Linked DNA regions of Homo sapiens. The protein of the gene in region 1 purifies or fractionates together with the protein of each later gene. This does not show direct contact. Each region holds a gene or a part of one and is shown in the gene's direction. Other genes may lie near its edges.

Region 1 (3,091 bases):
GGAAGGAGCAGGGTGGGGGAGGATCAGAAGCCCAGCTCCGAGCAAGTGAGTTTGGGGCGTTTTTCGACAATTGAGAGTACACAGCTGGAGACAGGAGTCTGGAGCCCAGGCGAGAGGTTCAGGCTGAGCCCAGGAAGCTGGGAGCCCCTGTATGCAAACTGTTCAAGCCCATGAGCATGAATGAGACCCCAGGTGAGTACAGACTGAGGAAACCTACCAGGCTGGGGGCTGAACTGGAAAATCCTGCTGTCCTGGTTGGAGAGAGTCTCAGGGAAGTGTCCACCAGTGCCCAGACACCCCAGCTCTCTCCCAGACCTCTCTCTCACTTCCTCAGGATCCAGCAGTGTGGTGCAGTATCCATATAGTTCAGAACCTCGTCAAATGTTGGCCCTTGTCCGAGCGCAGTGGCTCACACCTGTAATCCCAGAACTTTGGGAGGCCGAGGTGGGTGGATTGCTTGAGGTCAGGAGTTTGAGACCAACCTGGCCAACATGGCAAAACCCCATCTCTACTAAAAATACAAAAATTTAGCCAGGCGGGGTGGCGCCTGCCTGTAATCCCAGCTACTTAGGAGGCTGAGGCAGGATAATCGTTTGAAGCCGGAAGACAGAGGTTGCAGTGAGCCGAGATCACGCCACTGCACTCCAGCCTAGGCTACAAAGTGAGACTTTGTCTCAAAAAAAATTAAAAAAATAAAAAAACTGTTGGCTCTTACTGTGAGTGAGATGGGAGCTGCCTGGCCTAGCAAGGGACTTCCAGGACCTGTTTCCACTAAAGCTGGCAGGACTTTTTCTCCTCCGGGTACAAAGACTGGCCTGCCATGGAGCTTCTCTTCCAAGGCATGATCTGACTTAGGTTTTAAAAGGATCATTCTGGGGCCAGGCGCGGTGGCTCACACCTGGAATCCCAGCACTTTGGGAGGCCAAGGCGGGCGGATCGCCTGAGGTCAGGAGTCCGAGACCAGCCTGGCCAACATGGTGAAACCCTGTCTCTTATTAAAAATAGAAAAAGTAGCCGGGTGTGGTGGCGGTCACCTGAAATCCCAGCTACTCGGGAGGCTGAGGCAGGATAATCGCTTGAACCCAGGAGGTGGAAGGTGCAGTGAGCCAAGATTGCACCACTGCACTACAGCCTGGGTGACAGACCAAGACTGTCTTGGGGCTGGGGGGCGGGGGTGAGAAGGATAGTTCTGGGTTCGGGTAGGGGGGAGGTGAGGGAAGGAGTGGGAAAGGGGAAATCAAGGCAGCATCGAGGGTCGCTCACCCCTTACCTGTATTTCTCTCTCTACAGATACATCAGCCCACAGCAAGGCGGGCTCCAGCAGCCCGGAGCCATGGGCCCGGCCCTCCTGCACTCCCCAGGAAGGGGGCTGCCCACGGCCCAAGGAGCGTGAGTCACCACCCCCTTCGGCCCTGCAGCCGGTCCAGCTGCCTCGCCTGGCCTTGTCTCCACCACCCCCAGCCCCTCCACTGCCACCCCCACCGCCACTGGCCCAAGTGGCACCCTCACCCCCTAGCCCCCCACCCCCTCCTCGGCCTCCACCCACGCTCTCGGCCTCAGACCCCTCCCTGGACTTCCTGCGGGCCCAGCAGGAGACTGCCAACGCCATCCGGGAGCTGGCCGGCACCCTTCGACAGGGACTGGCCAAACTGAGCGAGGCCCTCAGCGCTCTGCTGCCCCTTCTGCCAGGAACCCCAGTTGACTCCCTGCCTCCACCTCTGCCCCCACCCCCACCCCCACCGCCACCTCCCAGGCCTGTCCTGCCCCCACCGGCCCCCAAGGTGGAGATCACCCCAGAGCCCGTGTCCGTGGTGGCTGCTGTGGTGGACGGGGCAGTGGTGGCAGCCAGGGGAGTGATCATTGCCCCAAGGAGCGAGGAGGGGGCACCCCGGCCCCCCCCAGCCCCGCTCCCTCCGCACGACTCCCCCCCACACAAGCGGAGAAAAGGTTTCCCTACACGGAAAAGGCGCGGCCGATGGAAATCTCCGTGAAATCTACTATCTATGATCCTGCCTGCAACCCCTCTCCCCAGCTTGGCGCAGTCGAGGGGGGCGATGCTCTCTGCCCATCCCAGCTGCACCCTAGCTCCCTGCTCCAGGGATGTGAGCACCCACTCCCTGTGCTAGTTAGTGCCTGATTCTCTGGGGGGGGCCTCAGTAATGGGCCCCCCCAACCCCTTTCTCTGGTACAGTGCTGTCTGCCTGGCTGCCTCCCTTAACCCTGACTTCTAAGCCATCAATTTCATGTTATTTATTATTGCCCTATGTGGGGTGGGGAGGGAACCTCTCGGGTCTGCACATCTCCCCTTCCCTAACAGTTCCTGTTCTTGACTTGAAGAGAATTGACCCGTGGGGGACTCCCCACCTCCCCAACCCAGACTTTGGAGCGGGTGGGAGTTGTAAGACAAATCAAAATACGGATGACAAAGAGGATATAGCCGTGTATACCCCAGGGAGAGGAGGCGCCGAGTTCTGATGGGAGAGGTACAGGTTGGGTTCTCTGCCTACCATTGCTGTCTCTGACTTCCAGAGCTCAACCCCCTCCTTTCTCCCAGTGGTGACAAGATATCAATAAACTTATTTTTAATACAATTACTTGAGGCTCTGTCTGAGACAGGCCTGGGGGACCAGCACCTACACCTGCCCCGCCCCCTCCACAGGCAGGCAATTGGGAGGCTGGTGGTTTTCCAGCTTTTTTTTTTTTTTAATTCTTAAAGCCATCAAGTCTTGTGTTTACATGAAATCTTATTCCTACTCTTCCTTTAGATACCAGTCTAAATGTCAACTCCAGGAGAAAGTCCTAGATTCCTTCCCCAAGGCTAACGTGGGTTTGCCTCTTAGAGTCTCTTTCAGTGTCCTGTGGTTCTTTTTCTTTTTCTTTTCCTTTCTTTTCTTTTCTTTCCGTTTTTTTGAGATAGGATCTCGTTCTGTTGCCCCAGCTGGAGTGCAGTGGCATGATCACAACTCACTGTAGCCTCGATCTCCCAGGCTGAAGCAATCCTTCTGCCTCAGCCTCCCAAGTAGCTGGGACCACAGGCATGTGCCACCATGCTCAGCTAATTGTTTTATTTTTCTAGAGATGGGGTTTTCTA
Region 2 (3,500 bases), on another chromosome or scaffold:
ACAAAAAAAATTAGCCGGGTGTGGTGGCGGGTGCCTGTAGTCCCAGCTACTTGGGAGGGTGAGGTAGGAGAATGGCATGAACCTGGGAGGCAGAGCTTGCATTGAGCCAAGATTGTGCCACTGCACTCCAGCCTGGGTGACAGAGCAAGACTCCATCTCAAAAAAAAAAAATTAGCTGGGTGTGGTGGTGTGCACCTGTAAACCCAGCTACTCAGGAGGCTGAGGCAGGAGAATTGCTAGAACCAGGAGATGGAGGTTGCAGTGAGCTGAGACTACCACTTCATTCCAGCTTGGGCAACAACAGTGAAACTCCATCTCAGAAAAAAAAAAAATATCTGCATATAACTTTCAACTTAGCCAAAACTTAACTACTAATAGCCTTCTGTTTACTAGAGGCCTTACTGATAGCATAAACAGTTGATTAACACATCTTTTGTGTTATATGTTATTATATACTATATTATTACAATAAAGTAAACTAGAGAAAAGAAAATGTATTAAGAAAATTATAAGGAAGGCCAGGCACAGTGGCTCATGCCTGTAATCCTAGTACTTTGGGAGGCCGAGGAGGATGGATCACTTCAGGTCAGGAATTCGAGATCAGCCTGGCCACCATGGTGACACCCCATCTCTACTAAAAATACAAAAATTAGTTGGGTGTGGTGGCGTGCAGCTGTAGTCCCAGCTACTTGGGAGGCTGAGGCACAAGAATCGCTTGAACCCGGGAGGCAGAGGTTGCAGTGAGCCAAGATCATGCCACTGCACTCCAGCCTGGGTGACAGAGTGAGACTTGGTCTCAAAGAAAAATATAAGGAAGAGAAAGTATATTAACTATTCATTAAGTGGAAGTAGATCATCAGAAAGATCTTCATCATTGTCTTCACGTTGAGTAGGCCGAGAAGGAGGAAAAGGAGGGGTTAGTTTTGCTGTCTTAGGGGTGGCAGAGGCAGAAGAAAATCTACGTATAAGTGGACCCACGTGGTTCAGACCCATGTTGTTGTTCAAGGGTCAGCTGTAATTCGTTTTATGATTAATCACTAGTAGGGGAAATATCTAGAAGACTTGGTGTTAAGGGAAGCTAACCTCAGATTTGAAGTCATCACTGAGGGCTGGCCATGGTGGCTCACGCCTGTAATCCTAGCACTTTGGAAGGCCAAGGCGGTTGGATCACCTGAGCACAGGAGTTTGAGACTAGCCTGGCCAACATGGCAAAACCCTGTCTCTACAAAAGATACAAAACTTAGCCGGGCATGGTGGTGGGCACCTGTAGTTCCAGCTACTCAGGAGGCTGAGGTGGGAGTATCACTTGAGCCCTAGAGGTGGAGGTTGCAGTGAGCCAAGATTGCATCACTGCACTCCAATCTGGGCAACAGAGCAAGACTCTGTCTCAAAATAAATAAATCATCACTGAGTGCCCTGAAAGTGAATAATTAATGTGATGCAGTTAATGCAATGCAACTGGACCTGGTTGCATTGATAAATGAGTTTTAACTGGGACTTTGCCACCAACTATTATGTTGTCTGGCTTTGTTTTTCCACCTTTTTGAGCCTTGGTTATTAAGAACATTGAGAATAGGTGAGGAAGGAGGAAGGCTAGTAAGGAGCAGATTATAGGAAGAGGTTATCGGGGATTTGGTTAAGGAAGGTAGAGATGAGATCATGGCTCACTCCAGCCTCCACCTCCTGGGCTCAAGCGATCCACCCATCTCAGCTTCCAGAGTAGCTGGGACTACAGTGTGCACCACCACACCCGGCTAATTAAAATACATTTTTTTTTTTTTTTGTAGAGACAGGGTTTCACTATGTTGCCCATGTTGGTCTTGAGCTCCTGGACTCCAGTGCTCCTCCCACCTTAGCCTCCCAAAGTGCTGAGACTACAGGCATGAGCCACCATGCCCGGCCCGAGTTTCAAAAAATACTATAGAAAATAGTTTGTATAATTCATCCCCCCCACCCCAACCCCCACTTGATGAGAGTGGCGTGAATCTAGAAATGACAACATGTGGCTGTGGCCAGACTATAGCAAACAAAAAGCCAGTGAGCATTGAAGGTGATGCTCATGTTTCACTTGTGAAGACGAAACATCTTGGGCCGTGATTAGGAAAGATAGGCAAAGGGGGTGGAAATGATAAGTTTAATTATGATAATAGTATCTTATCCCCCATGCTTCTACATAATAGCTATTGTTCTTTCTGTTTTTATAGATTAAAATATTGAGGCCTAGAGAGCTTAAATTAATTGCCTAAAGTCACATGGCTGTAAGTGATAGCACATTTTAAGATTGCATCAGGACATAGAATAAGACTTAGTTTCCAATTCTAGCAAAGCCCATTATAGAAATCACTAGGATATACAGGAACTAGCGTGGTGGGTATGAGGTTGTTTGGGTTTTGAGGTGCAGCATTTGTTGCAGAGCCTCCTGCTTTGACGTTGTTCTGCCTGATAATTAAAAGCCCTACCCTCTGCCTGCTGGGCTGCTGCAGGGGCCAGGCATCACTGTCGCCTTTATACTCTGACTCTTTTTTCCCCCTTTCCTGCTTTCAGGATGAGGCCATTCCTCAAAATAGTAAAAAGGCCACACAGTGAAGCCTGTACCCCCCAGGTTTGATTTCAGAAAGCTTTTATTCAACTTAATGACAGTTTATTCTTTCAAAACAATATATTGAAGTATTACACAGAGTTCACTATTGTTTCATAATGTCATATGATGTAATGCTAATGCTGGTGGGTGATCTGCAGAGGCAGTGGCTGGGCGAGTTTGGGGCTATTTGTATGACTGAGGTAATGTTTGCATTTTTAATAAGCAAGCAGATTCTTTCTTTGGCCTTAACCCTTTTGCATAAATATACCAGAGTATAATTTATGCTCCATAATCCAAATATCTGTTCCTTTTTTTATCAAAGGGATTTCTGTTTTTCATAGCAATGTCTGAATTAGTAATTTATTTTGACATGTAAAGCATTTTATAGGAAATGAAAGATTAGAAAATTAGAAAGTAGCTACAAATGGCTGTGACAGAACACAAAGGCAAAATAGTAGATTTGATGTAAGTTAGCAAGATTCCAAGAAGTTAACAAACCCTGTATAGATTTCTTACTTGAAATTCAACCACTCATATTTTTTAATGAATCCCACTCTATTGTATGTCATTCTAAAGAAATGAAATATTTGCAAGAGAAAAGTAATATGGTTGGTGTTTTATATATAAAGTTACAAAAATAATTATTCACTCTTAGTAGATGAATATGTGCATATTTACACACATGCATGCATGTGACATTCTTTCCAACCGATCTGTCATTTTTGTTACTGACCTTGGATACAACGTAAGAGATTGTATTGCTGCCTATGGAAGGGGCTGTTTTTGTTAATAACAAGGATGATCAAACATATACAGTGTAGATACTGAAGTGATACTAAGCAGCTTTGTTGGGAGTTTGGTGTTTGGTTGTTAAGAACATGATGCATGTGAAGTAGATTTTGATAATTAAAAGGAGCCT
Region 3 (2,873 bases), on another chromosome or scaffold:
GTGTCCCCAAAGTATCTTTTGTAGTGTGTTTTTTCTTTGGTGATCCATGATCCAGTTCATGGTTTACACATTGCATTGTCTGTTATGTGTCTTTAGTCTCACCCTGTGTACAGCAGAACTCATCCCCCCACCCCCTCGCTTCCCTTTTCTCTTCATGATGAATGAATCCTTTGAGTCCAGGTCAATCATCCTACAGAATGTTCCACATTCTGCACTTGTCTGATAACTGTCGTATTGTATTACTGTACATAAAAAATGTGAGAGTATTATATTAAAAAGAAGCTGAGATACAGGGGTTGGGTGAGTGTTAATAATACTATGCTCATTTTGCCTTCAGGATCCAGTTACAGAATGTTTACAAAATATGTAGGGAAACCCAACAATTGCCTAGTGATCTTGGATATTAGATATAGGATATGGTGCATTGAATGAGAATAGTTTATGAATATAGGTAATAGCGTTAAAAAATCTGAAACGTAATATACTCCATTTCAATAAAAAATATATTATTGTAGTGATTTCTATGTTGTATGGAACTTTTTATTATATTTATTATATTTTCAATCATTGCAGGATTATCTGTTAATAAAATATTAATTTTGCATACAATTAAAAGGTGTTAATGTGTAGCTTACTTGTTTATAGATTAACCTCTGTTTATATCTTTTAACTCAATTTTATTTAGAGTTGAACATTTCTAATAATTGAGATGGTTGAAACAACACCTGTTTTGAATTAAATTTACTTAAAAATTCTTTTTCTTTTAATGCTTTTTTTGTCTCAAGTCATCTGTTGGTTACTGCAACACATATGTACTGTTTAAGGGAGATTGTTTCACGGAAAGGATTGGCTTATATACAGTCTCGACAAGCGCTGAATTCTGTAGTTAAAATTACATCCAAAAAAAAACATCCTGAACTCATTACCTTCAAGTATGGAAATAGCAGTGCTTCAGGAATAGAAATCTTGGCAATCGAAAGGTAAGATTTTCCTTAAGATAATATTATCTGAATTCAGATATTATCTGAATTACTGTAGTTCACTATAAAGAGTTTGTTTCTTTATTTTGGGGAATGGATGGTGGAATAGGATAGCTGAACCACTTTTAGTGTTTCTTATCTCTTTCTCCGGAGTCCTTAGTCATGTGTGGTTTAGCCATTAGCACATGATTTGAGTAAGTGCCATAGCTAATTTCATAAAGTTTCTGACCCAAGGATCCTTATTGTTAATCTGTACCAGTGCTGCACTAATTGCTGGCTTGCAGAGAAATAAGAAACTTGTTTTAGAATATGTTGATATTTTTATTTTCCTTCATCGAAAAATTCTTGTTTTGACAAACTGTCAGTGAACTAAGCAGTGTGCTGGGTGATATAGGTAATTTACAGCCTGGTACAAGCCCCCCTTTGTCTCATTGTGGGTCACTAACAGTTCACAGACTGGCCCAAGAGCTGTGGACCACACTGATATTGATACTAAACCATTTTTTAATTATAGATAAAAATATGAAGCCCAGAGGGGTGGAATGACTTCCCAGATCCTAACACTTAGTTTGTGACAGAACCAAATATAGCCTTCCTGACTCCTGATTTGTGGTTTATTATACCTTGCATCAGTTCAAGTTGTTCCCCCACTGGGATTTAGGATTACACTTATTATTTACAGGAGTGCTTGGATAAATAGTAAGCTTAAGGTTATATCGCAGCACTTTTAAATAATCAACTTCAGTTGGAAGAGGAAATTATTCAGCTTCTTTCATCTTGTACTGACAATTAGGTAGCAAACATCATGAATCTATACTGTTTTATGTAATTTGTTAAAAGAAAATAATACCTGATTTGTAAAAAAAAAAAAAATCACTTCATTGCTTTATGTAAGAATAAATATTTACATAGTGATATTTTCAATTAATAATATAAAGAATATGTCATTCTAATTCTCTGTTAACACATTGATGTGTATCTTCTCAGATTTTTTTTAATGCATATGTTATTTCTCTACTAAAAACTAGATAAATGTGATATAGGCTTGTTTTTGTGTTCTGATTTTTTAAGAAAATAGTATAGTGTGAATATACTTACATTTTAATAAATATAAATTTTTTAAAATTAATTAATTAATTTTTTTGAGACGGAGTCTCTGTCACTCAGGCTAGAGTGCAGTGTTGCAATCACGGCTCACTGTAAGCTCCGCCTCCCAGGTTCACACCATTCTCCCTGCCTCAGCCTACCGAGTAGCTGGGACTAGAGGCGCCCGCCACCATGCCCAGCTAATTTTTTTATTTTTAGTAGAGATGGGGTTTCACCGTGTTAGCCAGGATGGTCTCCATCTCCTGACCTCGTGATCCACCCACCTTGGCCTCCCAAAGTGCTGAGATTACAGGAGTGAGCCACCGTGCCCGGCCCAATAAATATAAATTCTTAGCTTTTTAATGGTAGATATTCTGTTATAAGGATTTCTCAGGAGATTGATTTAACAAGCCTCATGTTGATTGGCATTTACATTGTTTTCATGTGTTTCACTATTAATCTTCTAGTGGGCCTTTAAAAACATGTATGTTTACATAGTTGTCCAATTAGTCTTCTCAGGATAAATTCCTGCAAGTAGATTCAATGGGTGAGAGGTATACACATTTTAATATCTACTTATAAATTAATCCTAACCAAAGGAGATTTGAATTATGACTCTCTCATGTATAGTAAAAGTTGGGAATTGTGTTTTAAAGGCTTTCCCACAAATTTTGCTAAATAAATTGAAGTTTATTATATATGGATCAACATCTTTTTTTTTTTAATTCAGAGTTTTGGAAGATAGTCTTAATAGTGGAAGATAAAGTAACTAGATTCTCTCTCTCCCTTTCTTCATTGATATTTATG

Evidence for each region.
Region 2: the proteins of MYPOP (region 1) and BORCS5 purify together in Homo sapiens (affinity purification with mass spectrometry; one large-scale study listed by BioGRID and IntAct). This does not show direct contact.
Region 3: the proteins of MYPOP (region 1) and TBC1D23 purify together in Homo sapiens (affinity purification with mass spectrometry; one large-scale study listed by BioGRID and IntAct). This does not show direct contact.

Annotation. Positions count from the first base shown.
Region 1 is NC_000019.10:45,889,523-45,892,613, reverse strand, and holds the end of MYPOP (myb-related transcription factor, partner of profilin), read left to right. Parts: intron 1-334; coding exon of another isoform or gene 335-444; intron 445-1,290; coding exon 1,291-1,991; 3' UTR 1,992-2,591; downstream 2,592-3,091. UniProt on the Homo sapiens protein: Transcriptional repressor; DNA-binding protein that specifically recognizes the core sequence 5'-YAAC[GT]G-3'. Dimerization with PFN1 reduces its DNA-binding capacity.
Region 2 is NC_000012.12:12,363,578-12,367,077, forward strand, and holds part of BORCS5 (BLOC-1-related complex subunit 5), read left to right. Parts: intron 1-3,500.
Region 3 is NC_000003.12:100,319,992-100,322,864, forward strand, and holds part of TBC1D23 (TBC1 domain family member 23), read left to right. Parts: intron 1-785; coding exon 786-980; intron 981-2,873. UniProt on the Homo sapiens protein: Putative Rab GTPase-activating protein which plays a role in vesicular trafficking. Involved in endosome-to-Golgi trafficking.